Regions from separate parts of the Homo sapiens genome. Here regions 1 and 2 are each linked to region 3. The links come from fine-mapping of genetic effects on gene expression. A gene starts in region 3. Each other region holds a variant in brackets. All regions are shown on one strand. Distances are between the middles of the regions.

Evidence for each region.
Region 1: its variant is fine-mapped to the expression of TGFBR3 in pancreas (GTEx, PIP above 0.99).
Region 2: its variant is fine-mapped to the expression of TGFBR3 in whole blood (INTERVAL, PIP above 0.99).

What each region holds. Positions count from the first base shown.
Region 1 is chr1:91,800,831-91,809,011 of GRCh38, reverse strand. All of the region lies in intron 2 of TGFBR3 (transforming growth factor beta receptor 3), which reads left to right. Among named protein-coding and RNA genes, the nearest start is that of TGFBR3, 81 kb to the left of the region's middle. RefSeq lists an enhancer at 4,977-5,246. The variant G/A (reference allele first, on the strand shown) is at 3,428.
Region 2 is chr1:91,677,601-91,685,781 of GRCh38, reverse strand. It overlaps TGFBR3 (transforming growth factor beta receptor 3), which reads left to right. Exons shown (of 17, transcript NM_003243.5): 17 at 1,925-5,439. The coding sequence ends at 2,043. Among named protein-coding and RNA genes, the nearest start is that of CDC7, 180 kb to the right of the region's middle. RefSeq lists enhancers at 964-1,043, 1,523-2,026. The variant A/TAA (reference allele first, on the strand shown) is at 3,357.
Region 3 is chr1:91,881,199-91,889,379 of GRCh38, reverse strand. It overlaps TGFBR3 (transforming growth factor beta receptor 3), which reads left to right and starts at 3,229. Exons shown (of 17, transcript NM_003243.5): 1 at 3,229-3,502. RefSeq lists silencers at 2,963-3,102, 3,453-3,532, 3,543-3,752 and enhancers at 2,895-3,657, 3,658-4,421.

The sequences.
Region 1 (8,181 bases), 80 kb after region 3:
CTATCCTTCAGTTATTTTGTATCTGCCAAATTCATAGGGTAGGAGAAAAAAGATCTTATTTTCTCCCATCCTTCAAACCTTCAGATTTGTTCTTGGTCTCTGTTCTGAGCCAATTAGGCAGTAACATCCCATAAATTCTTATCCCCTCCAAAATGAATGCTGTAGCCAGTGTCTCCTTCTGTTTAAGCTTCCTTCTTGTGAGAAGAATAGGGACAGGTGCACCATATTATTGGTCAAAAGTAAATCAGTGCTCGGTGTGGTGACTCACTTCCAGTACTCTGGGAGGCTGAGGCAGAGGCAGGTGGATCACCTGAGGCCAAGGGTTTGAGACCAGCCTGGCCAACATGGTGAAACCCCATCTCTACTAAAAATACAAAAATTAGCCGGGTGTGGTGGTGCATGCCTGTAATTCCAGCTACTTGGGAGGCTGAGGGAGGAGAATCACTCGAACCCAGGAGGCGGAATTTGCAGTGAGTTGAGATTGCGCCACTGTGCTCCAGCCTGGGCGACAGAGTGAGACTGTGTCTCCAAAAACAAAACAAAACAAAATACCAAACAAAGTAAATCAGAAGAACTGTTGGCCAAGATGATGCCAACTGATTGTCTTTATGGATTGATGGAATTCCCTGGAGGCAGAAACATGGCCTGTTCTCGCCTTTGGGAGTTGTACTTCCAGAATGTGCTCAGAGAACAGGAATTTTTACTCTAATACTGTGCATAGTTTAATTTAATTAAAAAAATTTTTTTAAAGAGATGGGGGTCTGGTTATTTTGCCCAGGCTGGTCTTGAAGTCCTGGCCTCAAGCACTCCTGCTTTGGCCTCCCATAGTGCTGGGATTACAGGCATGATTACAGGGAGTACATGCCCAGCTGTAGTTTTATTTTAAGTCTTTCCAGTGCAATTCATAGAAATAATTTCTGGGGAGTAATGCTAGGGAGTAGTATAAGAACATCTTATCTTAGATATTTTATTAATCATTCTAAAAGTTTTTAGAGAAAACAGTTTTTGATTGGAGAAAATGTTCTCATTCATTTATTTCTCTTCCCCTCAAGGGACTTTATGTCTCTAATAGTATTTGAAGTTTGTAAAGCGTTTTCACATATAGTGCATCATTTGATCTATAAGTCAAGCCTGTCATAGAATAAGAGATCATGGAATGCTTAAAACCCAGCTCCTGTATCTCCTGGTTCACTATTTCCCGGTGCTTCTGTAATACAAGGACACCTCTTGCTATGTCCAGTGGTGACTTCTGAGACATGCCACTGCTTCACTTCAGGTCATAAAAACCATGAAACATAACAGCACCACTTCCTCAGAGGGCTGCAGAAATCCCCCTCTGTTGGCACGTCCAGATTGTATAGTGGTATCTTGTTTAGATGGAAGAGTATGTGCCTTTTATAGCTTGGCACTTCCCAACACTTTGAGAATTTGGATTCCTAAAGAACCTGTGCCCTTTGTTTCCTTTTGAACATTTGAAAACACAATTGAATACAGGAAATTCTCCAACATGGTTGCTCCATGATTTCAACACAACAATACACAAATATGCACTGGCTTTTGGCCCAAAAAGTTGGTGGTTGACTTCTTGGAAGAGGGTTAGTTTGTTAGGAGGAAGGTTTGGATGTAGATTTTGCTTGGAGGGTGAAAGAAACCATGATAAGATATGCCTAAGAGTTGTGCTGTAGAAAAATCTAGTTTTTTTCCCCCTGAGAAATCCAAATTACAAGTTTTAGGACTTGTCTACCTTTTTCCTACTAGGGATAAGCTTCAGCCTGAAGCCAGGTTTTATTGTTGAAAAACCCAGGTAGGAGCTGTGGTAGAAGCGCCCTCTTTGGAGTTTAATGGTGGTACATTCCACCGCTCCATCCCCAAGGCGCTGTAGTTCCAATGAATTGTAATTTGAGATGGTACAAACATGAGCATATGTTATGTACACGTCAGGCGTGTTTGTGAGCTCAGGGCATTCCAGGTGTTTTTTTCTTGGAGCTTTGTTTTTGCGTCATATCCTGTGTTGGTAACATTCCTTCTCATGAAGCTCGATTGAAGTGAGGCAGTGCTATTGGCTGAGAAATCATCCTGGGTGCCCTTTCTTACAGATTCTTGCATCCCATGGGGGTAGAAAGGATTTTCAGCCCAAGGGCAGAATAGATCCTGTAGTACCCAGTCCCACAATCTGTGGGAGTTTGTCCCTCTTTGCAGCTGACAGCATTTCAGAATTCCCTGTGGGACAATAACAAAAACCTTATTAGCCAATGGTGTCATTAGAATAAAATCTCCCCACTGCGATGTCTTGGTCCCAGCCTATAATGTTACCCCTTAATTCCCTCTGCATCTTTACCACTTTTATTACAGCTGAACACACGCTCCTCATTAGAACCCTGGGTGATATGGGGAATCAGAGTGCTGAAAATTATGTGGAATAGGTACCAGATGTTTGTGTCAACTTGGTATGCATTGGTATTTAGAATGCTTGAGGATCACATTTATTAAATGTGAAAATTACTTACTATGTCTTCTCCAAAACATTACCCCCCCCGCCAGTATTTTTGTCCATGTTGCATGAGGTGTGATATTAGTAATTTCTTTTGGCACTGATTAAATTTAAAGTCTGTGCAGCAAATGCATCTGTTCCCAAATGCTTTGTCTGCGTTCTGTCGAGTTTTGGAGCTGGCCCACCGCCAGCAGGGATGTGGGGGTTCTGTAACTGAGATTGGAATGCTGTGTTGCAGCTAAAGGACATAATGAAAGGGTGAGTCCATTTGATTTTTTTCTTTAAGTGGAACTGGGAATTTAGACATTGATGTTATAGCGAGATCTTAGGAACGTTTCCCATGTGTCCAGATAAGCAAGCATTAGTGAAAAGGATGGAGGAGGGCATTTGGTAAAATGAGAAACGAGTTTCATTAAGTTCATGAAGTCTTTTAAGTCAACCAAAGGTGATACGTGTGAACCGAGCAGTTTATTTTATTTTAGTAGATATGAATGAATGTTTACATTTGGCCTATGCATCTGTTCACCCAGTCCTGAGGCGAGGAACTGGAAAGTACAAGGCAGAGGCAGGTGGTGCTCTGCCAGGGGAAAAGTCTGGAGCTGGAGTCTCAGAGACCCAGGTTCAAATCCCCTATTGCCACTTCCTGCTGATGTGTTTCTTAGCCTCTCATGAGCTCCAGTTTCCCATCACTCTAAAATGAGGGCATTAACACTGTCTTCACAGTGGTATTGTGAGAATCAGAAACATGTACAAGATGTGTGGCCCCTAGTGGTGTGGTAACCATACATATGAAGAGTTAACCCCCAGCTTCTCACACAAGGCAGCGGCCCAGGGAGCCACCATGTGCTTCACAGTGTGGCCTCAGGTGGCCCAGCTGCTGAGCACCCGAGCGGTGGGGGCCTGCTTTGTGAAGGAGGCTGGTTTGGCAGTGGCCTT[G/A]GCAGTGTGGCCGTGGTCTGGGCCACCTGGGGAGTTTCTCACCAGAGTTTATTTGAATTTGTGCTGTCTTCAGGTCAGTAAATATTTTTGTCAGTAGAAGTAGCATCTTGTGGGTGAAGGGGGCTGTGCCTCTGTGCTGGTGGCCGAGGAGAGTGTACCAAACAGAAGAGCAGAGCCTGACTTCAGTTCAAACAAGACACGACACCCGGCAAGATTTTGAGATCAGATTTCTCGAGTAAGCCAGCAGGGGAGGATTAAACTCAGCTCACACTTTGAGTCCAAGGAAAAGTTAGATTTCTTTGGGAGCTACCCTTAAGGAATCTTGTACTCGTCACATACCAGATGCCCAGAATGAACTGAAATATCCAGATTGGGAGGCACCAGTGAGGATTGTCTCTGGAGGTGAATCCATATGGACATTACTGCCAGGAAGCACTTTTCTGAAATACACATTCTACCTCTGTGTGGCTCACAACAGTTTACTTATAGTGGGTTATAGAGTTTCTGTGAGGCTTTGGATGAAGTATCTGCAACATGCCTTTTCATGATAGAGTATGGTGTGAAGTGAGCACGCGTGTGTGCTTATGAGCATTGTTGCTTTCAGGTGTGTTCTTTCGTCATCGTCCACGCCCTGGTTGATCCTTACGTGGTAACACAGCTTTTGCTGTGCTGCTGATAAGGAGCATCATCAGAGCATGTCACTCACTTGGCTCTTGACTGCAGGGAAGAGATTGCGTAGGGAAGACGGGATGTGGGTTTTCAGCCGTGGCCACAGGAGACACTCCCAGCCTTTTGAGGCTGCCGGTGAGGGCCTACAGTAGCAGCTCCAGAGCTCACAGGTCACCACAAAAGTGAGCAGATGAGTCAGATGGGGTTTCGGAGCATGTTTTCCTGGTTTCCAAGCCTTCGTGGCTGGGAGGTGCTATACTCGGGCCCCATGGTGGTCAAGTGAGAATCTGAGCCACTGTGTTAACTCAGGCACTTGTGCTAGAGCCTGTGGGGTGGATCATGCTGTTCCCAGGTGGAAGCCTTCCTGAATGGAGCTGGCCCTGGCATTGTGCAGACAGATTGCGGAAGGAACCACTATGAGGCCAAGGGGGAAGGATGGGAGACAGGTTCATGAGCTGGCTGTGGCAGAGGGAAAGGGACAGGAAGGCTAGGGCCTGACCCAGAAGTGGCAGGATGAGGCTGGGGCTGTGGTGTGCCAACGGAGAGATAGAGGATTGTCCTGCCACCTGGAGAGAGGGGATTGGCCAGAAGAGTGTCCGGGAAGAGAAGACAAAAACAGATTTGTGTTTCCTGCTTTCTGTGACAGTTGAAGGTGGGGAAGCCCCAACTGGGACTTGATTCTTAGCAACCAAAAATGCCACCTCCTTCATTTCATGGTTGGTGTTTTTTTTTTCTGCCCCTTTTAGTATAAGAGTGAGGCTTTGGCTCTCAGGTAAAGAGTGAAAGCAGGAAGTCTGAGACAGACAGTCCCTTATTGGCACAAAGCCCATGCAGCATGCATCACCCCATGGTTCTTCCCCATTTCTCAGCGATAATTGAGTGTCTGTTTTGTGCCAGATACTGTGCTGGGGTGAGGCAGGCAGCAGCAGACAGAGTGGTTGGGTTCTGTTCTTTCGTGGTGTTTGCAGTCTTTGGGAGCATGTAGATGTGAAACCAATAATTGCACAAATAATTATGTACATCTCATCACAGGAAGTGCTGTGGAGAGAAACGGAGAGTACCATGAGAGTATGAAAAAATACAGATCTAACACAGTGAGGGAGGTTTGGGGAGCTTCCTTGAGAGATCAGTAGAATGAGCAGGAGTTTGTCAGGCCATGGTGGTGGGAAGGAACAGAAACGGTGGGGAATGTGTTCCTGGAGGAAACCTTGCTATTCAGAGGCTCCTTTGGGACAAAGGTTGGCACTTCTGATGAAATAAAAGAAGGCAAGTACATTAATTAGGGTAGGTTAAGCTACAAATGTCAGAAAACCCAAAATAACATTGGCTTATATAAAAAAAAGAGTTTACATTTGTTTCCTATTAAAAAAAAAAAAGCAGTTCAGAGCTGATCCCGTGGCTCCATGTTCATCAAGTACCCAGGTGGCTTCTCAGTTGCTGTGCCCTCCTCAGCATGCTGCTTCTGTCTCATGGCCCCAAAGGCTTGCTCTAGTGCTGCCTGTTACATCCACATTCCAACCAGCAGTCAGAAGGAAATGGCAGAAGAACTGACCTCCTTCCCTTCATACAGGAAGCTGCCAGCTGCTAGCGGGATTGGGAAACATAGCTTTCGTTCTGGGTGGCTGTGTGTCCAGCTGGCACTTGAAGAAAGGAGAATGATGGCTATAGGGAGACAGTGAGCACTTCTGTGCTTCACCAGAATGGCCAAAACACGGGAGCAAGTGTCCGAGGAATGAGAGACGGGGCCGTGGCAGGAAGCAGGGCCAGATCTTGGAGGGCCTTGTAAGTCACGTTGAGGTTTTGGGGCTTCATCTGGACAGCAGAGATGGAGTGATAAGTCTTTTAAAGCAGAGAAAAGCAGGATCAGACTTGGGTTTTTCAGATCAGTTTGGCTGCTCTATAGAAGACATTTTGGTGGAGATAAGAATTAAGAGCATCTTGCAGTAATCAGGGAACGAGAGACGATGGTGCCCATGGAGATGGAGAGGAGGGGTCAGAGTTGAGTGGCCAGAGAGAGAATCCATTGGGTGAGGAGAGGGAAGGGGTGATGTTGGGGCACCTCCCCCAGGTTGGTGCCAGGTGTACGTAGGAAGAGGCTGGTGCCATTTACTTAGGGAGGGAATGAAGGAGGAACAACAGGCACGAGGGGTAAAGATCCTGAGTTCTGCATGTTGAGATTGGGTGTCCATGAGACAAAAGTAGATGGTGAAGGAGCTGTTGAATATTCAGGCCTGGAGCTTAGAAAAAGAAGTATGGGCCAGGCATGGTGGCTCACGCCTGTAATCCCAGCACTTCAGGAGGCCAACGCAGGTGGATCACATGAGGCCAGGAGTTCGAGACCAGCCTGGCCAATATGATGAAACCCCATCTCTATTGAAAATACAAAAATTAGCTGGGTGTGATGGCGGGCGCCTGTAATCCTAGCTACCTGGGAGGCTGAGGCACGAGAATCGCTTGAACCTGGGGAGTGGAGGCTGCAGTGAGCTGAGAGCGCGTCACTGCCCTCTCGCCTGGACGACAGAGCGAGACTGTCTCAAAAAAAAAAAGAAAAAGAAAAAAAAGGAGAAATAAGTAAGTCTGAGATGGCCTGGAGTCATTTCTGTAAAGAGATGAGAGTTGAACCCATGGATGTGTTTGAGAAAATCTATGGAAAAAGGATAGTGCACTCCAGGAAGGCCTGGCAGGCATTTTACCTGGAAGGCGGCGATGGAACAGCTGGTGGCAGAAGAGCGTCTCTCCAAGATATTCAAAGGAAAACTTCATACAATCACACTGCCTCTTTCCTTTCTTGGCCAGAGAGGCTTGTTTTTTACCCAAAGGAAACCCTCTCCCCTGATTCCTACACTGTGTCTGTTCTCTTAGGAGAGGACTACTCTACCCCATACTTAGAGTTTAACCTACGTCCTTTAGCCTGGGTGTTTTCACAGGGACTTTTTGTCCCCTCCCTTAAGTCTTAATTTTTTTCACTTGTACATTCTGTACCCCTTGCAAACTTATCCAGTTATGTTTTTCAGGATAAAATTCCTAGCGGGAAGTTGCTGGGTCAAAGGATGTGTACCTTTTGTGGGGCCTTGGATACCACTGAAAAATTATACCAATTTGCTCTCTCAGCAGCAGTGTGATGCTGGCACACTTTTTGAGGAAGGTTTCTTAAGGCATTTCTGGGCTTAATTTTTTTTATAAGCATTGCCTCCCTCTCCCAACTTTTCTTTAATGAAAAGTTTCAACATGTAGAGATGTTGAAACCATTGTACAGGGAACATTTAGATTCCACAATTAGCATTTTGCAATAGTTGCTTTATCAAATATCTCTCCATCTGTCAATCCATCTTATTTTTTGGGAGGTATTTCAAAGTAAGTTACAAAACGGTAGATCTCACCCCTAAATCTATGACCACTTTTTTATTTTCACAGAAAGTGTTGGCACAGTAGCCCAGGCATTGGGCTGGATGTTCACCGTACAATGCTTGGTCACCCTTTCCCTCTCCTCACCCAGTGGATTCTCTCCCTGGCCACTTAACTCTGTCCCCTTCTCTCCATCTCCACGGGCACCATCATCTCTCTTGCCCTGATTACTGCAAGGCCGGGCACTTCAGGACCCTGCCTCCTGAGAGAGAGAGCCGCAAGGAGGGCCAAGTCTGAAGCTTTGGGTGACTGGGGCAACCTTGAAACAGTTACTTAAGCACATTGAGCTTACTTTGCTTTCTTTAAAATGGGGTTAGTGCTGCTTCCTTGCAATGTGTCAGAAGGATATGCAGCACCTAGCATTGCATAGTGGGCACTTAATAAATGGGAGCAGTCTCTCTCTCTCTCTCTTTTTTTTTTTTTTTTTGAGACAGAGTTTTGCTCTTGTCGCCCAGGCTGGAGTGCAATGGCGCGATCTTGGCTCACTGCAACCTCCGCCTCCCGGGTTCAAGCGATTCTTCTGCCTCAGCCTCCTGAGTACTAGGATTACAGGTACACGCCACCAAGCCCAGCTAATTTTTGTATTTTTAGTAGACACGGGGTTTACCATGTTGGCTAGGCTGGTCTTGAACTCCTGACCTCAGGTGATCCACCCGCTTCGGCCTCCTGAAGTGCTGGGA
Region 2 (8,181 bases), 200 kb after region 3:
AATAAAGCTCCTACTCTGGGGAAAGTGAATTTTTGGCAGAAAGTTATTGCCATGGAGGCTAATTTCCCCAGCCTTAATTATACACACACATGAAGAGTAGAGGGCAGTGCTGGGGAGGGTCCAAAACATAGGTTTCCAAAAAAGTCAAAAGCAGTGTTTCAGCCGGGCGTGGTGGCTCACGCCTGTAATCCCAGCACTATGGAAGGCCAAGGTGGGCCGATCACGAGGTCAGGAGATCGATACCATCCTGGCTAACACAGTGAAATCGTGTCTCTACTAAAAATACAAAAAATTAGCCAGGCATGGTGGCACATGCCTGTAGTCCCAGGTACTCGGGAGGCTGAGACAGGAGAATTGCTTGAACCCGGGGGGTGGAGGTTGCAGTGAGCCAAGATCATGCCACTGCAGTCCATCCTAGGGGACAGAGCGAGACTCCGTCTCACAAAAAAAAAAAAAAAAAAAAAAAGGCAGTGCTTCTCCGCTTCTCAGGAATATTGACCCCAGTCCCCTATCCATCCCGCCAATCCCAGAAGAAAAGATAATTAGAGGAAGTACAACAAGGGCCAAACTTACAACAAGCACATAAATACTTTGAGGTTGATGCAAAAGTGTGTATAGCTGTGTGGTTCATGAAAGGGGTGACAGGAAAAGCTGTAACCAGACCCAGGGACATGAGCCAGTTCTACATTTTGCAGAACTGCTTTTTTCACAGAGGCTTTTGAGGGGCCCCAGAAAGAGAATGGAAGTAATGGGGCCAAGTTCCTGCACTGGAGGGCAGGGCCTTTCCTCGAGTGTTTTGTTTTAATGAAGCAGCTGGAAGGGTTGCTTATCTCCGGCTGATAGATGTGTATTTCAGCATGACAGGAAAGAGGAGGCTCATTCATAAACAGGCCTGGCCCTCTGGGGTTTCCCACATTGAAGGAGGGGATGCTGCTTACAAGAAGTTTATGAAGTTTATGCTCTGACTTTTCAAAGTAAATGCAGTGTTTTTTATTGGAGAGCCCTGATCGCTTTTCCCTACCTAGAGCCATTTTTTGAGGGTTGCACTGAGGCCGGTTTTGCCGAAGAGAAGACTAACTCTAGGGCCTTTTGCACTGTTAAATGCAAACCATGTGTGTGACTTGAGGTTTCCTTCCTCTCCAAAGCACTGCACATTTGGCACGATGAATGGCTTTAGCTAAAATGCAGTGGGGTGTGTAATGAAAAGTGGGATGCTTAAAGTGTTAGGAGATACTCACACTGCACCCCACAGGGAACCTCAGTGGGGAAGAGAGGCCATTCGCTGGCAACTGCAGTCCCCATGTGCAAACAGCTAAACCCCTTCCCCAAAAGGTTTTTCCAATAGCAGCTATCCCCCACCCCGGTTTCTCAGGTAATTTATCTGTTTGGCACACAAGGCTCTCTCTACTGTAGCTAGGACAAAGTCTATATTTCACTCCTGTTTTTAACAAGTGCATTCAGAACAAGGCTCCCAAACTTCCAGGGTTCTCTTAACTACAATTGAAAGGTCACACCCTCCAAATCCTACAGTGTCTTTATGAGAGAAGATGGACAGTGTTTCCTGAATACAGGTGCTGGTCAGTTGCCAGCTCACACAGACCAAGTGGTGGTGATTTCATCAAAGGTTGTGGACCCTGAAATCCAGGGACTTTGTCATCAACTCTCAGGGGTCTTAGCCACTAGAGCTGCCTGTCAGTCAGCTGTCTTCTTTTTCCCATTCATGATGCTTTAAAAATAAAACAACAAATAGCAAAACCTTATTTTAGAAGGTATTCCAGCCATCTAGGACCTAGTCTAGTTGCTTCTGCCCTGGTTGAGAAAAATATCAGTTAAAATGGCAAATGCGGAATAAATGATCTTTTCAGGAATGCACATACATAATATGCGTCTTTCTCTGACTCTGCCTTTTCTTTATTAACTGCAGGGGAGACAGCAGGAAGGCAGCAAGTCCCCACCTCCCCGCCAGCCTCGGAAAACAGCAGTGCTGCCCACAGCATCGGCAGCACGCAGAGCACGCCTTGCTCCAGCAGCAGCACGGCCTAGCCCAACCCAGCCCAACCCGGCCCAACCCAGCCCAGCCCAGCTCAGCTCAGCTACTGCCAAGGGCAGGACCAATGGCTGAGCCTCGTGTCCAGACTCAGAGGGCTGGATTTTGGTTCCCTTGTAAAGACAGAGTGAATTTCAGTATAAAGATCACCCGTTGTATTCACCCCACACCCAGGGCTAGTATAAACATGACCCTGGGCTTCTGTACCACACTAGAATTCATGTGAGAAAGCTAAAATGGTGGTCTTCTCCACCAGCCCCTCACAGGCTTGGGGGTTTTCAATGTGAAACACATGCCAGTTTTTAAAATGCTGCTTTGTCCAGGTGAGAACATCCATAATTTGGGGCCCTGAGTTTTACCCAGACTCAAGGAGTTGGTAAAGGGTTAATAGCCAGATAGTAGAACCAGTGAGGAGATGCGGCCAAAGATTCTTTATATCTGAACCAAGATGTAAAACAAGAAATGCTTTGAGGCTTTCTAAGCGATCCTCCTGTCTAATTTGCACCTTTGTCTGGATGCACACTTCTGACCTTGCTGCCACAACCTGTGGGGTCTGATGTGTCCCTTGATGGGTGCTGCCCTCAGGGACTGCACCCTGACAAGTGTTAAGGCAACATTCCTTTCTTGTGCCCTGGGCCAAAACCAATGCTGATGACCTTATCAGCTTCCTGTTTCTTCCCATACTTGCATACACCACTGCAAAATGTCTTAATGCAAATTTTGTATTTCTTACAGGCCTACAGAAATTGAAAATGACCAAAATCAGGAACCACAGATTTGTGCCCATTCCTAATATTTTGTTCTGCAAATTAATGTATAATTTGAGGTGAAATTCAGTTATAAAGTCAAGGACGAATTTGCACAGTGATATATTTCTATGTGTATGCAAGTACAAGTATATAATATGTCACCTGGCACATTCATTTTCTCAGTTGAAGAAGAGAAAATTTGAAAATGTCCTTATGCTTTTAGAGTTGCAACTTAAGTATATTTGGTAGGGTGAGTGTTTCCACTCAAAATATGTCAACTTAAAAAAAAATAGGCCCTTTCATAAAAACCAAACTGTAGCAAGATGCAAATGCATGGCAAATCCTGTCGGTCTCCAGTTGGTTATCTGAATAGTGTCACCAATTCCACCAAGACAGTGCTGAGATTGGAAAAGGGCACTCATTTGGATTGCCTTACTTCTCTTGCCTTAAATATATCCCATATATTTAATATGTCAAAAAGGGCTTGAGGTGAATTTCATTAAATGGAATAATATGATGCCACTTTGCAGCTAAAATAAGCTCAGTGATACCTCCTTGTT[A/TAA]AAAAAAAAAAAAAAAAAAAAGAATGCCAGGGGGGAATTATCATGCTAAATTATTTTACTGCTGAAGATAGCTTCATTGCAAATTATTCTTTTTCCAGAATTTCCCCCAAACAACTTAGAATTCCATAAGTAGAACAAGATAGATTCTACCCCCAAAATATTCATAAGCAAATCCCACTGCCCTTAAAATAAGGAAGTTATGCCTGGTTGTCTGTGAATGGAACCTCAGTAGGTAATCCTGATGAAGCTTAAAACCTTAGGGCAGTGTCTACATGGGAAACAAGTATGTGGAAATTGACAATCATTTTTACCAAATCGTTGAGTAATAATATGACTTACCTGATAGATATACACATTCAATAAGGAACATTTTTTTTTTTCAATAAGGAACATTTTAACTAAAACATTACTTTAGGGCTGAGATTTCCAGGCTATCTACATTGATCTACTGAAAAATTTCTAGATTTCCATATACAAACGAAGAAGACATGAGTTTAGAGAATTTTTTTCCTTTAATTTTTTTTTAACAGAAGGGTATCAGAGTGGAGGACCTAGATTACGCTACCTGTGTTTGAAAATATTGCGCTTTGCCTAACCTTCGGTGGAATGTATTGTTTCAGCATATTCTATGTATAAAAAAGTTTAAAGATGTCTTCAAAGAAGACTAGAGTCTTTAAGTCACTTATAGCTATATTTTACTACAAAATTTGTGTATAAAGATATATTTAAGTGTTTTAGATAAATTTAAGTTACTCCATATGAAATGTTTAATTTCAGCTACTGTGAATTCTTTCGATCAGTCCTTTGCTTTTTTAAAAAATCTTTTCCATCGTGTTAAAAAGAAAATTAGCTATTAGGAGATATTAAAAGATTGATGTCTTAGAAGGACAGGGTTAAAACCTTCTGTAATATATTTAAATATATATTTTTAAGAGAGATGCTACATTGCCAATGATTTTATAAATAATTTAAAATTAATTTACAAATTTATAGATGCAAACCAAAAGATCTTTTTAAAAGAGAGAGAGAGGAAAAAAATCACCTTTTATTTGTTTGGGTCTCATTGTCAGAATTATTATTCAGATCAAGAAATCTGTGTCGATAAAACCTAATCTCATATTGGAGAGTGAATGTCGTTAAGTATTTCTGAAATGTTTCTAAAAAATGAACATGAAAAAAATAAGGTATTTTCTCCCTAGCTTCTCATTACAGTATTTCTAATTGCTTCACACTTTACAGTTTTAATACAAAGTACAAGCTCTACTTTTATAACGTGTACTACAAGTTTCTTTAAAAGTATTGTTGTATTTCAGCTGAACTCTTGTATCTGCAGTCTTTTGTTATTTCTGCAGGCTACACCCTTAATTTGCAGAGGCCATTTTGTTGTTTGTTTGATGCTGAAGCTGTTGTTAAAATGCCCCAAACTCCAAGGCAGATTGTCTGTATAATACGCTATAGCTTTTCACCATGTGGTGTTTACCAGCTGTTACTCTGTATTTTAAAAAGCCAGAGATTTCTTCTGTCTAAACTGTTTCTATAGCATTTTCTAAACAAAAAAAATGGTTTTTTTCTTTGCCTTGTAATAAGATTGTAAATCCATTTCCTGCTTGTGTTCTTAGTGGGCATGATTGTGAGTGTGTGTGGGGTGCTCACACGCGTGCCAGTCTTTTTGTACTGTAACTACCTCATGGTTTGAATGATGATTGTACTGCTGGTTGTGTTAACAGAGCACATTTTGTTGGGTGAGTCCTATGTGATTTTTTTCATGTTTGTTTTATCTGGGGGTTGTTCATGAAACTGACAGATGTTTTTCTAAAAAGGACTATTATCAGTTTCCAAATACAATACTTCTCTCTTCTGGTTTTTCCTGAATGAGCCTGATTTTGTTGCTGGTTTTCATCATCTATGAGGGTAAAACGAGTACCCTTAAAATCCCTGTGGCCAGTTTGAACACCCCTGTTGTATTCTTTTCTCTGTTCAGTGTGTCAGCTATTTTGTGAAGATGCTTAGATGTATAGTTTTGATAACCACAGTTTTAAATCTTTTATCTGTGCATAATAAAAAGATATATATCAGTTATTAATATGTGTCTTGTTATCATTAAATTCTACCCTAAGGCTCATGTAACTTTTTTCACTGTGACTTTCTCCTGAATGGATCGTCTGCTCCGTGTTGATGAGGAAGTGGGAGGAGAAAGGCTAAGAGGTCCAGAGCAGAGGGAAGGGCGGATGGACTAGAAGAAGAGTGCAGCAGGAGCTGTCGCTCTTCTCAGAAAAACATGGCAGGAGACTTGGAAGTGGGTGTCTCACCCTGGAAACCATTCCTGGGCCTTCTGTCAATCTCCCAGAGTCAAAGAAAGAAACATAATATACATTTAAGGTCTACTATTTTCAGCCCCTTCAAATACCCCATTGCTGCTTCCAGCATTCCGTATCTCCATATGGTACCACCGTCTTCCAGTTGTCCAAGCCAGAAACCTGGGAATCTAACTACAGCCTCTTTGGCTCCCCTCTTCCCAAATCAATAAGTCCGAGTGTTATTCTACCTCTAAAATGTCTCTTTCTTCAAACCACTGACTTATTCCTACTCTGACTGTTGTTACACACTGCTCAAGAGCCATTGTCTCTTGAGTCACTGCAGCAGCCTCCTAACTGGTATGCCGACTTTCCATTTTGCTCCCTTCAATTCTTTCTCCACCATGCAGCCAAAGTAATCCTAAAAAGACTCCATTTTGAGGCCTTTAGGTAATTGCCCCATTTGCCTTCAGGATACAGTTCAGATTCCTAAGCATGGTTCCGAGGAGGCTAATCTGCCTGCTTTCCCAGCTACTTCTCTCACCTCTCCGGAGCTCAGTTCTATTTGGCATCCTCACCCCCAGACAAATTTGTAATGAAAAAAGTTCTCGTTCAGTATCAAATATTACATTACAGCATTGAATATGCATTTACAGGCCACACTCCCCTTTTGAGATTTTTAGTGACTCAGATGATTTGGCATCAAGGCCAGCAGCCCATCCCTCACATGTTACACAGGTGGGTACCCACAGAGCCGGAACAGTGTTAAGCTCCATTTTACAGCTACGGTGCCCCCTGCAACCAGCTCCTCTTAGGATATGTGGGAGTAATTGGCAGGTCAATGAATTTTTTTTGCCATTAAACTCTCCTTGTGTCTACTGGAGTCAAAACCTGGGTGATTAATAAATGGGCTTCAGAGAGTCTGTGAAGTGGCTGGAATTGTATGTAGGATTTTATTGCAGCTATGTCTCGGCTGTTGTTTTTGGTGAGAGTCCATAGGCTTTTTGTAAGAAAAAATTATCTTTCTTGTTCACACAATATATATATATAAAATGAATGCAAAGAATACAGACATGTAGCAATGAAAAGGCCTCCATAATCCTCCAACTTGAATATAAGAATACCGATTTAGTGTATGTGTTCCCAGATGTTTCCTTAATTCATATCAACATGTCCATGTCATTAAATAAGATTGGATTATGGCCCGGTGCAGTGGCTCATGCCTGTAATCCCAGTACTTTGGGAGGCCAAGGTGGGTGGATCACTTGGGGTAAGGAGTTCGAGACCAGCCTGGCCAACATAGTGAAACCCTGTCTCTACTAAAAATACAAAAATTAGCGGGGCGGGGTGGCATGCGTCTGTATCCCAGCTACTCAGAAGGCTGAGACACGAGAATCTTTGAACCCAGGAGGTGGAGATTCCAGTGAGTTGAGATCATGTCACCGCACTCCAGCCTGGGTGACAGAGGAAGGCCCTGTCTCAAAAAAAAAAAAAAAAAAAAATTGGATTATAACAGTTGTGACTTGCTTTTTTCTTTTTTCTTTTTTTTTTTTTTTTTTTTGAGACAGGGTCTCATTGTGTCACCCAAAGCTAATTTTTATATTTTCAGTAGAGATGGGGTTTCTACTAAACCCAAGGCAAATTTTTATATTTTTAGTAGAGAAAAGGTTTCACCATGTTGGCCAGGCTGGTCTCGAACTCCTAACTTCAAGTGATCCACCCATCTCGGCCTCCCAAAGTGCTGGGATTACAGGCGTGAGCCACCACGCCCAGCCTGTGACTTGCTTTTTTCATATGGCATATCTTTCTCAGGGCTCCTAAGATGACTGCTGATCATCATCATTTTCTTATTAGGCTTAACTTAAATTGCCCAAATAAAAATATGGTTCTCATAGGAAGTGAAATACAAAGATATTTGTTAACGCTACCCTTCCTACTCCCTCCAGTCACTTACCTAGAGGAGCTGATGTTAACAGCCTTTTTTCAAACTCAAACATATTGAAACGTGTTCATGAATATAGAAGTTTTTGTTTCGTTTACTAAAAATGGGATCACAATATACATACTCTGCAACTTGCCTTTTTCACTTAACATCGACCTCCTGTAGATTATTAGATACGGAACAAATTTCATGTTTTTTGGTGGCTGCATAATATTTTTTACAATGAATTCAGCCAATTCACTAGTAATGACATTTTAGTTTTTTGCCAAGATATTCTGCTGCAGTTAATATCCTTATATATTATGTTCTCACACTCCAATGCTTTAAAGCAAAAAAAAAAAAAAAAGTGACAGAATTATAAAAATTATAAAGAGGAAAAAGAGGAACTGACAAATTCATCACAGTAGGATATTTTAACATATCACTCTCAGAAGTTGACAAGTCAAAAATATTTGGATATGGAAGATTTGAACAATGTAATTAAGCTTGATTAAGATCCATACATAGAATCCTGTGTCCCCCCAATTTGACAATTTTGTATATACCACTCCTGGAACTATAATGGCATTCTCAGCAAATATCACAAAAT
Region 3 (8,181 bases):
GGTTAAGGACTTAGGTTTTGAGGTCGGTGGATGTGAGATTGAATCGTGGACAGGTTTTGAGGTCGGTGGATGTGAGATTGAATCGTGGACAAGATCTCAGTTTGTATAAAGGCATGTATATCGGCCTCATTTATACATATTCTTAGAGGGCTGTGAGAAGTAAATGTGTTTATATGTATAGAATTTAGTACCCATGGCCAGGCGCAGTGGCTCATGCCTGTAATCTCAGCAGTTTGGGAGGCCAAGGCGGGTGGATCACTTGAGGTCAGGAGTTCGAGAGCAGCCTGGCCAACATGGTATGAAACCCCGTCTCTACTAAAAATACAAAAATTAGCCAGGCATGGTGGTGCGTGCTTGTCAATCCCAGCTACTCAGGAGGCTGAGGCAGGAGAATTGCTTGAGCCCAGGAGGCAGAGGTTGCAGTGAGCTGAGATTGCGCCACTGCACTCCAGCCTCGGCAGCAGAGCGAGACTCTGTCTCAAAACAAAAACAAACAAACAAAAAAGAATTCAGTACCCACGCTGGCTCAGATGTTGATGGTTACTGTTGTGAATCTGGCTCTACGGGGACCAGTCACTTCATCACTCTTTAAAGACAAGACACTCCTAAATTATCTACCAGGCCATTTTATTTAGAAGGCCTTAACATGATTGATACATTTAATTTAATTTTATTTTTTTGAGACAGAGTGTTGCTCTTGTCCAGGCTAGAGTGCAATGGCACCATCTCAGCTCACTGCAACCTCTGCCTCCTGGGTTCAAACGATTCTCTTGCCTCAGCCTCCCAAGTAGCTGGGATTACAGGTGCCCGCCACCATGCCTGGCTAATTTTTGTATTTTAGTTGAGATGGGGTTTCACCATGTTGGTCAGGCTGGTCTAGAACTCCTGACCTCAAGTGATCCACCCACCTCGGCTTCCCAAATTGCTGAGATTATAGGCATGAGCCACCTCACCTGGCCGATGCATTTAAATGTGGGATTAAATATTCACACCTAGTTCAAGTGTTCACATCTGTACTTGAAACTAAAACTTGTTAACAAGGCATAAATACTGTATTAGTCTGTTTTCATGCTGCTGATAAAGACATACCCGAGACTGGGCAATTTACAAAGGAAAGGTTTATTGGACTTACAGTTCCACATGGCTGGGGAGACCTCACAATCATGGCAGAAGGTAAGGAGGAGCAAGTCACATATCACGTGGATGGCAGCAGGCAGAGAGAGCTGGTACACGGAGACTCCTGTTTTTAAAGCCATCAGATCTCGTGAGACTTATTCACTATCATGAGAACAGCACAGGAAAAACTCATCCCCAAGATTCAATTACCTCCCATTGGGTTCCTCCTAGGACACATGGGGATTGTGGGACTTACAATTCGAGATGAGATTTGGGTGGGGACACAGCCAAACCATATCAAATACTGTTTAATTTGAGTCTAGGAGAAATCTTAAGGCCTTAAACTTAGACTTTATAAAAGCAGAGGCTAGCTCCATCTGGACTGTTTATTCCTTCAGAATATTATGCCTACTTGTATTCCCAATGCCTGACTCAGGGCTCTCCCATAGTCAGTGCTCAATGAATATTGGTAAGGAAAAAAATGGTTCAGTGAGGAGATTTTTGCAGTAATTCAGGTGACTGATGACATTTGACCTTTGTGAATGAATCTCCAATTCTGCAATTGGGTGGATTCTCTGCCTATAGGTACAAGAGGAAGAGGACGAGAAATATTTCCTGTTCTCTCAATAACTTTCCAAATAACATGTCATAAGAAGCCTCCTCATTCTACTCTCCAACATATTAAAAGCCTAGGATTGAGCCAGGTGCAGCGGCTAACGCCTCTAATCCCAGCACTTTGGGAGGCCAAGGCAGGCGAATCTCTTGAGCTCAGGAGTTTGAGACCAGCCTGGGCAACTAAGTGAGACCCCCGCCCTGCCAACCCCCTCTACAAAAAATACAAAAAGTTAGCTGGGCGTGGTGGCATTTGTCAGTAATCCCAGCTACTCAGGAGGCTGAGGTGGGAGAATCGCTTGAGCCTGAGAAGCGGAGGTTGTAGCGAGCTGAGATTGAGATTGTGCCACTGCACTCCAGCCTGGGCGACAGGGCGAGACTCCATCTCAAAAAAAAAAAAAAAAAAAAAAAAAAAGGCATAGGTCCATAGCCCTTTAGAACTGGAAGAAGCCTTCTAGGCCAAGCCCTTCATTTGAACTGAGCCTTGACGGGTATTAGCCGTTAGCCATTTGTGGAAGGTCGCACAGTAGTCAGGACTGGAAGTCTGGTCTTTGAAACCTGTCAGTCCACGGTCATTTCACCTGCCTGTTTGTAAAACAATGTCCTGTTACTTAAGTATACTTTTTAATAAGAAAAACTGGGTGTAAGCAAGAGTATCAGAGTGGTGTTCTGGTGCCAGCAGTTCAACTTCTGCAGCGTGTACTTCACAGGCACAGGTACTTAGGACGTCGCACAGGCACAGGTACTTAGGACGTTGCCCCGCCGAGACTGTCGTTCATATCGCGCCCACCTCCGGGTAACGCCGGTAATGCTGACCTAGCTCCATTATTTGTATTAATTTATTTAGCTAGCAGGGGGAACGGCTGGGTAATGCAGTCTCAGCTGCTGGAGGGGAAGAGGCAAGACTCCGCCGGCGCCCACCATCAGAGCGTGACAACAAGCGGGACCGGAGGTTGGGAAAAAGCACAGGGACAGAATGAATGTGTGCATGGGGGAGCTCTGCTGGGGAGAGGGCAAGAGGCTGTGATCAGATTATCTGAGGTTTCAGAACTTTTATATAAAGACCAAGGAACCAAATGAAAATCCAACTCTTCCAGGGAGCCCTGGAAAGTTCAAAGGACCTCGTTTGAGGGAGCGAGTCCCCGCAGCTCGTGCCCACGTCTCCCTCGCGCTTCCCCCAGGACAGGGGCCGCCCCAACCCGGGCACGCTGAGCCCGGCCGCGCCCCTAGCCCCTTCTCTCTCGGCCTCCTCGTCCCGAAGGGAAGCACAGGCTCGAGCAGCATTCGGGGCTCATCCATCAGCCGCGGAGGCAAAGGGGGAGGAGAGAGGAGGCGGGAGGCGGGAGGCGGGAGGAGGAGTTTCTGGGCGGCCGAGAGCCCCCGGTGGGGCCGGCGGAGGAGCGCCCTTCCCCCCGCGCGCTGATTGCTGTGGCGTCCTGCCCGTCCCCGCCCGCGTGTGTGCGAGGGAGGGCGAGTGCGCCGGGTCGGCCTGATGGGGGTAATCGAGGGTTTCGGGGACGCCGAGCGGCACTTTCCTCTTCCCAGCGAGTGAAGGAGGGCAGTCGGCGGCTCTCGCGCCCCGGCCACTTTCCCTGCGCGATTCCCGGAGCTCCCTGCAGGAGGTGAGAGTCCCCAGCGGGTCCGGATGGCGTAGTTTTGCCGCGGCGCAGCAGCTGCCGGAGCTCGCCGCCGCCGAGCGCTGGGCGGGGAAACTTGCCGCCGCTTTCCTCCAACTTGCTGCGGGTGGATCTCCGCTGGACACACCGCCTCCGAGGTACGTGCCGGCCCAGCCCCGCGGCGCTGCAGCCCGCCCGGGCTGTGGGCTCTGCAGGCTGCGCGGGTGCCCGTCGGCGCGGCGCGGGCTGCCAGTGCCTACTTACCGGCCAGGGTCGCTCCAGCCGCCAGGACCTCCGGCCTTGGGAGGGAGGCGCTGGTGGGGCGGTGTTTACCCTCCGGGGAGCAGGCACCGGTGGCCAGCGGTGCGTGGGCAGCGGCCGCACGGGGCAGGCAGTGCCCCCGGCGATGCGCAGTGCTGGGGAGGAATTCTCCACGCCCGCCCTCACTCTTCCTCTCCGCGGGTCCTTCTGACCCCTGCGGGGCGCGGCGGCCACTTCCCTCCGGGCGCGTGACAGCTTCGGTGGGAATGGTTTGTTGTGGGTTCGCAGTCAATTGCCGTGGCCCAGGCTGTGGCTCCCGGACTCGTGCACGGACGCGGTTTGCGTTCCCCGCTGGCCGCGCCCTCAGGGTGCCTTGCGGGCTGAGCCGCAAGCTGCAGCTCGGCCCCCCCCCGCCCCGGTTTATTTTGAAGGCTCTCTTCTTGTATTCATTTGGTTAGGACAAACTTGGAAATCTTGGACTGTCGCTAGAAGAATCTGCTTGCAGACTTGATCTTATTAGGGCATTTGCCCCGCTTTGCAGAATCGCATAGTGTCAGGAGCCGACGTGTCAAGCATGAATTACCTTGGCAAAGTAGAACTTAGTGGATTTGGTGTCCTCACGAAAAGCTGGAAGAAGAAAACCGTTCCATTTCCCTAGCTGTGAAGTGAGGATAGTAGTACTTGCCCCGTAAAGTTGCTGTGAGCATCTAATGATTTAATGTGTGTGAGGTGCTACAACAGTGCTTGGCACCGAGTAAGCACCGCACGGAGGTTAGCGCTGCTTGCCGCTAGCCCTGCGGTGGCAGGATAGGAGCGGCGAGGGCAGAGGATAGTAGGAGTGACAGGCTGTGCTGGGGAACCAGGCGTATTCTGAGTTTTATGTCCTTCCGAAGAAGTGAGCGGTTTGGGAGAAGTCTCCACAGGTAGTAAAAACACACGTCAAGACCGTTTCTTCTTCCTGAATGCAGAGTGCAAACAGTTACTTCAGTGTGAACTCAGTTGTTTCTTTTGGATAATAATAACAGCTAACGTTTTCTAAGCCCATACTGTGTGCACTTAATCCTCACAGCATCTCTATGGGAAAAGCACTATTAATAACCCTATTTTACAGATAAGACACTAGAGGTTAAGTTACTTGTCCAAGATCATACATAACTTTCTGTTAGTTCTGACTCCAAAGCTACCTTCCTTCCTCAGCGGAGAGCGGCAAGTGCAGGCCGATTTGTGTGTACATAGATTTGTGTGCATAGTCCATGCATCTTCTCCCATCTTTCAGCTTTCTATTTGAGCTGAACGCATATCTCTTGAAACACACATAAGGTATCTGTGATGAATTTAGGCGATTTTACATACTTATGAGGGTGCCCAATTAAAGTTCCTCTGAAACTGGCCCCAAATAATTATAAATAGAACTCTGACTTGTATTAATTAACATGGAAATTTTTTTTTTTTTTTGGTGACAGAGTCTCGCTCTGTCCCCAGGCTGCAGTGCAGTGGTGCGATCTCGGCTCACTGCAACCTCCACCTCCCGGGTTCAAGAGTTTCTCCTGACTCAGCCTCCAGAGTAGCTGGGACTACAGGCGCGCGCTACCACGCCCAGCTAACTTTTGTATTTTTAGTAGAGACGGCGTTTCACCATGTTGGCCAGGATGGTCTCGATTTCTTGACCTCGTGATCCACCTGCCTCGGCCTCCCAAAGTGCTGGGATTACAGGTGTGAGCCACCACGCCTGGCCAACATGGATCTTTATTCTTAATTTCTTTTATTAATTCTCCAGACATTGTTGATCACCATTACTTGGCTTCCTTAGGAAACAGCTTGGGGTTGGCACAGGAGGCAGGGAAATAATTCTTACCCCCTTAAGGGCTATTAACATGAAATTGATTTCATGCCATTGTGTCAGTTAAAGGATGTTGCTCTATTTCTTGCTGTTCTTTGCTTTTGGCTTTATTTCTGCATTGTTTAGTGTTTCAAGGCTTGAGCGTTTTTTTTTTTTGGCCCTTCAGTTTGACATTTGTCAACTTTAATTTTTCCTGTTTTGATGGAATCTGACCGTTACACGGCAGCTTTGCCTAACAACTGTTGATTCAGCTCATGTTTTTAAATATAAAAATCACCAACATAGTTTTGAATCCCAGCACTTCAAAGGCAACCCGTGGGGAGTTCATTGTTATTTTGAATATTAGTCAATAGGGGGAGCATAACACACTGTTGATATCTATAAGGCGCATAAACCCGTTTTTAGAGTATTAAACATATAGTTTGAAAGGGGAGGGCAAAATATCTAGCAAAATAACTAAGTTGCTTTTGGAGTTTATAATGGAGGACTAGATTTAATTTGAACTGATTAAGAATGACCTTGAGGACAGGGCCTGTATGTTGAATATATGTCAAGAACTCCATGGTGGCTGGACAGATAGATAAACACACATATAGTTTTTTTTCAATTTGTTTCCTTAAGTGGTGTGTAGGCCAGGCACAGTGGCTCACACCTGTAATTCCAACACTTTGGGAGGCTGAGGTAGGAGGATCACTTGGCCAAGGAGTTCGAGACCAGCCTGGGTAACATAGTGAGACCCCCATCTCTTTAAAAAGTGAAGTTTGTATGTAAACTAATTTTGTGTGGTTTGAATAATATTTCAACTTACCTGGGAGAAATGGAAATCCAGAGGAATTTGTTGTGAATCCTTTTGTAATGATCCTCATTTGTGTTTTGTAGAAAACTGAATATAATGAATTTGTTCTCAGGGAGGTTGGTGTGTTCACAATCCTGTCATCATCTTTCATTAACATCTTCTAAGTGCAAGACAATAGGGGATCAGTAATCCTAAATAACAGCAGTTCTATTACTGTGAATTCCTCAGAGGCTTACGTTAATATTCAAGTATAGTAGTAGTTCAGATGTATCATATTTGATACTAGTATAAGTGTGATGTGTCTATGAATACTCATACTTGTAAACATAAACAATAAGAATATGCTTGAAAAAATCACACTTGACATTTATCTATTTATTTATTTATTTTTTGAGATGGAGTCTCTCGCTCTGTCGCCCGGGCGGGAGTGCAGTGGTGCAATCTCAGCTCACTGCAAGCTCCACCTCCCAGGTTCACGCCATTCTCCTGCCTCAGCCTCCCCAGCAGCTGTAACTACAGGCACTCGCCACCATGCCCGGCTAATTTTTTTGTATTTTTAGTAGAGACGGGGTTTCACCGTGTTAGCCAGGAAGGTCTCGATCTCCTGACCTTGTGATCCGCCTACCTCAGCCTCCCAAAGTGCTGGGATTACAGGCGTGAGCCACGGTGCCTGGCCAAACTTGACTTTTAAAAAAAGTTTTTGGCTGGGTGTGGTGGCTCACGCCTGTAATCCCAGCATGTTGGGAGGCCGAGGCAGGTGGATCACTTGAGGTCAGGAGTTCGAGACCAGCCTGGCCAACATGGCGAAACCTGATCTCTACAGAAAATACAACAATTTGCTGAGCGTGGTGGTGCACACCTGTAATCACAGCTACTCCAGAGGCTGAGGTGGGAGGATCCCTTGAGCCCAGGAGGTGGAGGTTTCAGTGAGCTGAGATCGTGCCACTGCACGCCAGCCTGGCAGACAGCGAGGTTCTGTCTCAAAAAAAAAAAAAAAAAAGGTTTTCAATTTTTGTCTGTAGTTTTGTAGGCCAGTTTCCTTTCTTGTTTCTTGCGTATTATGTAGTATTTTTTTATTATTTATTTATTTATTTATTTTTGAGACAAAGTTTCGCTCTGTCGTCCAGGCTGGAGTGCAGTGGAGTGATCTTGGCTCACTGCAACCTCCGCCTCCCAGGTTCAAGAGATTCTCCTGCCTCAGCCTCCCGAGTAGCGGGGACCACAGGTGCATGCCACCACGCCCGACTAATTTTTTATATTTTTCGTAGAGACGGGGCTTCACTGTGTTAGCCCCGATGGTCTTGATCTCCTGACCTCATGATCCACCCGCCTCGGCCTCCCAAAGTGCTGGGATTATAGGCGTGAGCGACTGTGCCCGGCCCCATATTATGTAGTATTGATTTACCTTTATTTCATTTACTACGTTAGGGTCCCATGGATCCTATTTTAAAATAACTTTCAAAATTAGTTGAGTCCCTTCTTTTTAAATCTTAGCATTGCGCTTATACTACAGAGTGGCATTTATTTAGGATCTCATTTAGTCTTCTATGCTTTGCTCTAGTTTACTCGAGTAATTCAACAAACACTTATAACCTCCTACTCCCTACTAGGCTATGGTTTCTGGTCTTGGAGCTTGGCAAATTAATTGTCCTTATTCAGTGCTCTGATGACTGGGGGCCAAAATGCCTTCAGGTTGCTTAGGGCTTTCTTACAGAAAGCCTTTCGTTGGCTTGAAGGAAAGTGTTGTTCCATTGTTTTTAAGACTCAAAAGAATTAATTTTTCTCTCTTGCATGCAAACTTGGTTGTGACTTGTAAAAGTCAGGTGAGTGCTTGTTTTTCTGAGGGCAGAATCTGAGCCTAAGAGCCCAGGGAACTCAACTGTCCTTTGAGTTTTAAGAAGGTGATCACTGCTGACTTCTTTAGTATATAAGTGAAGACC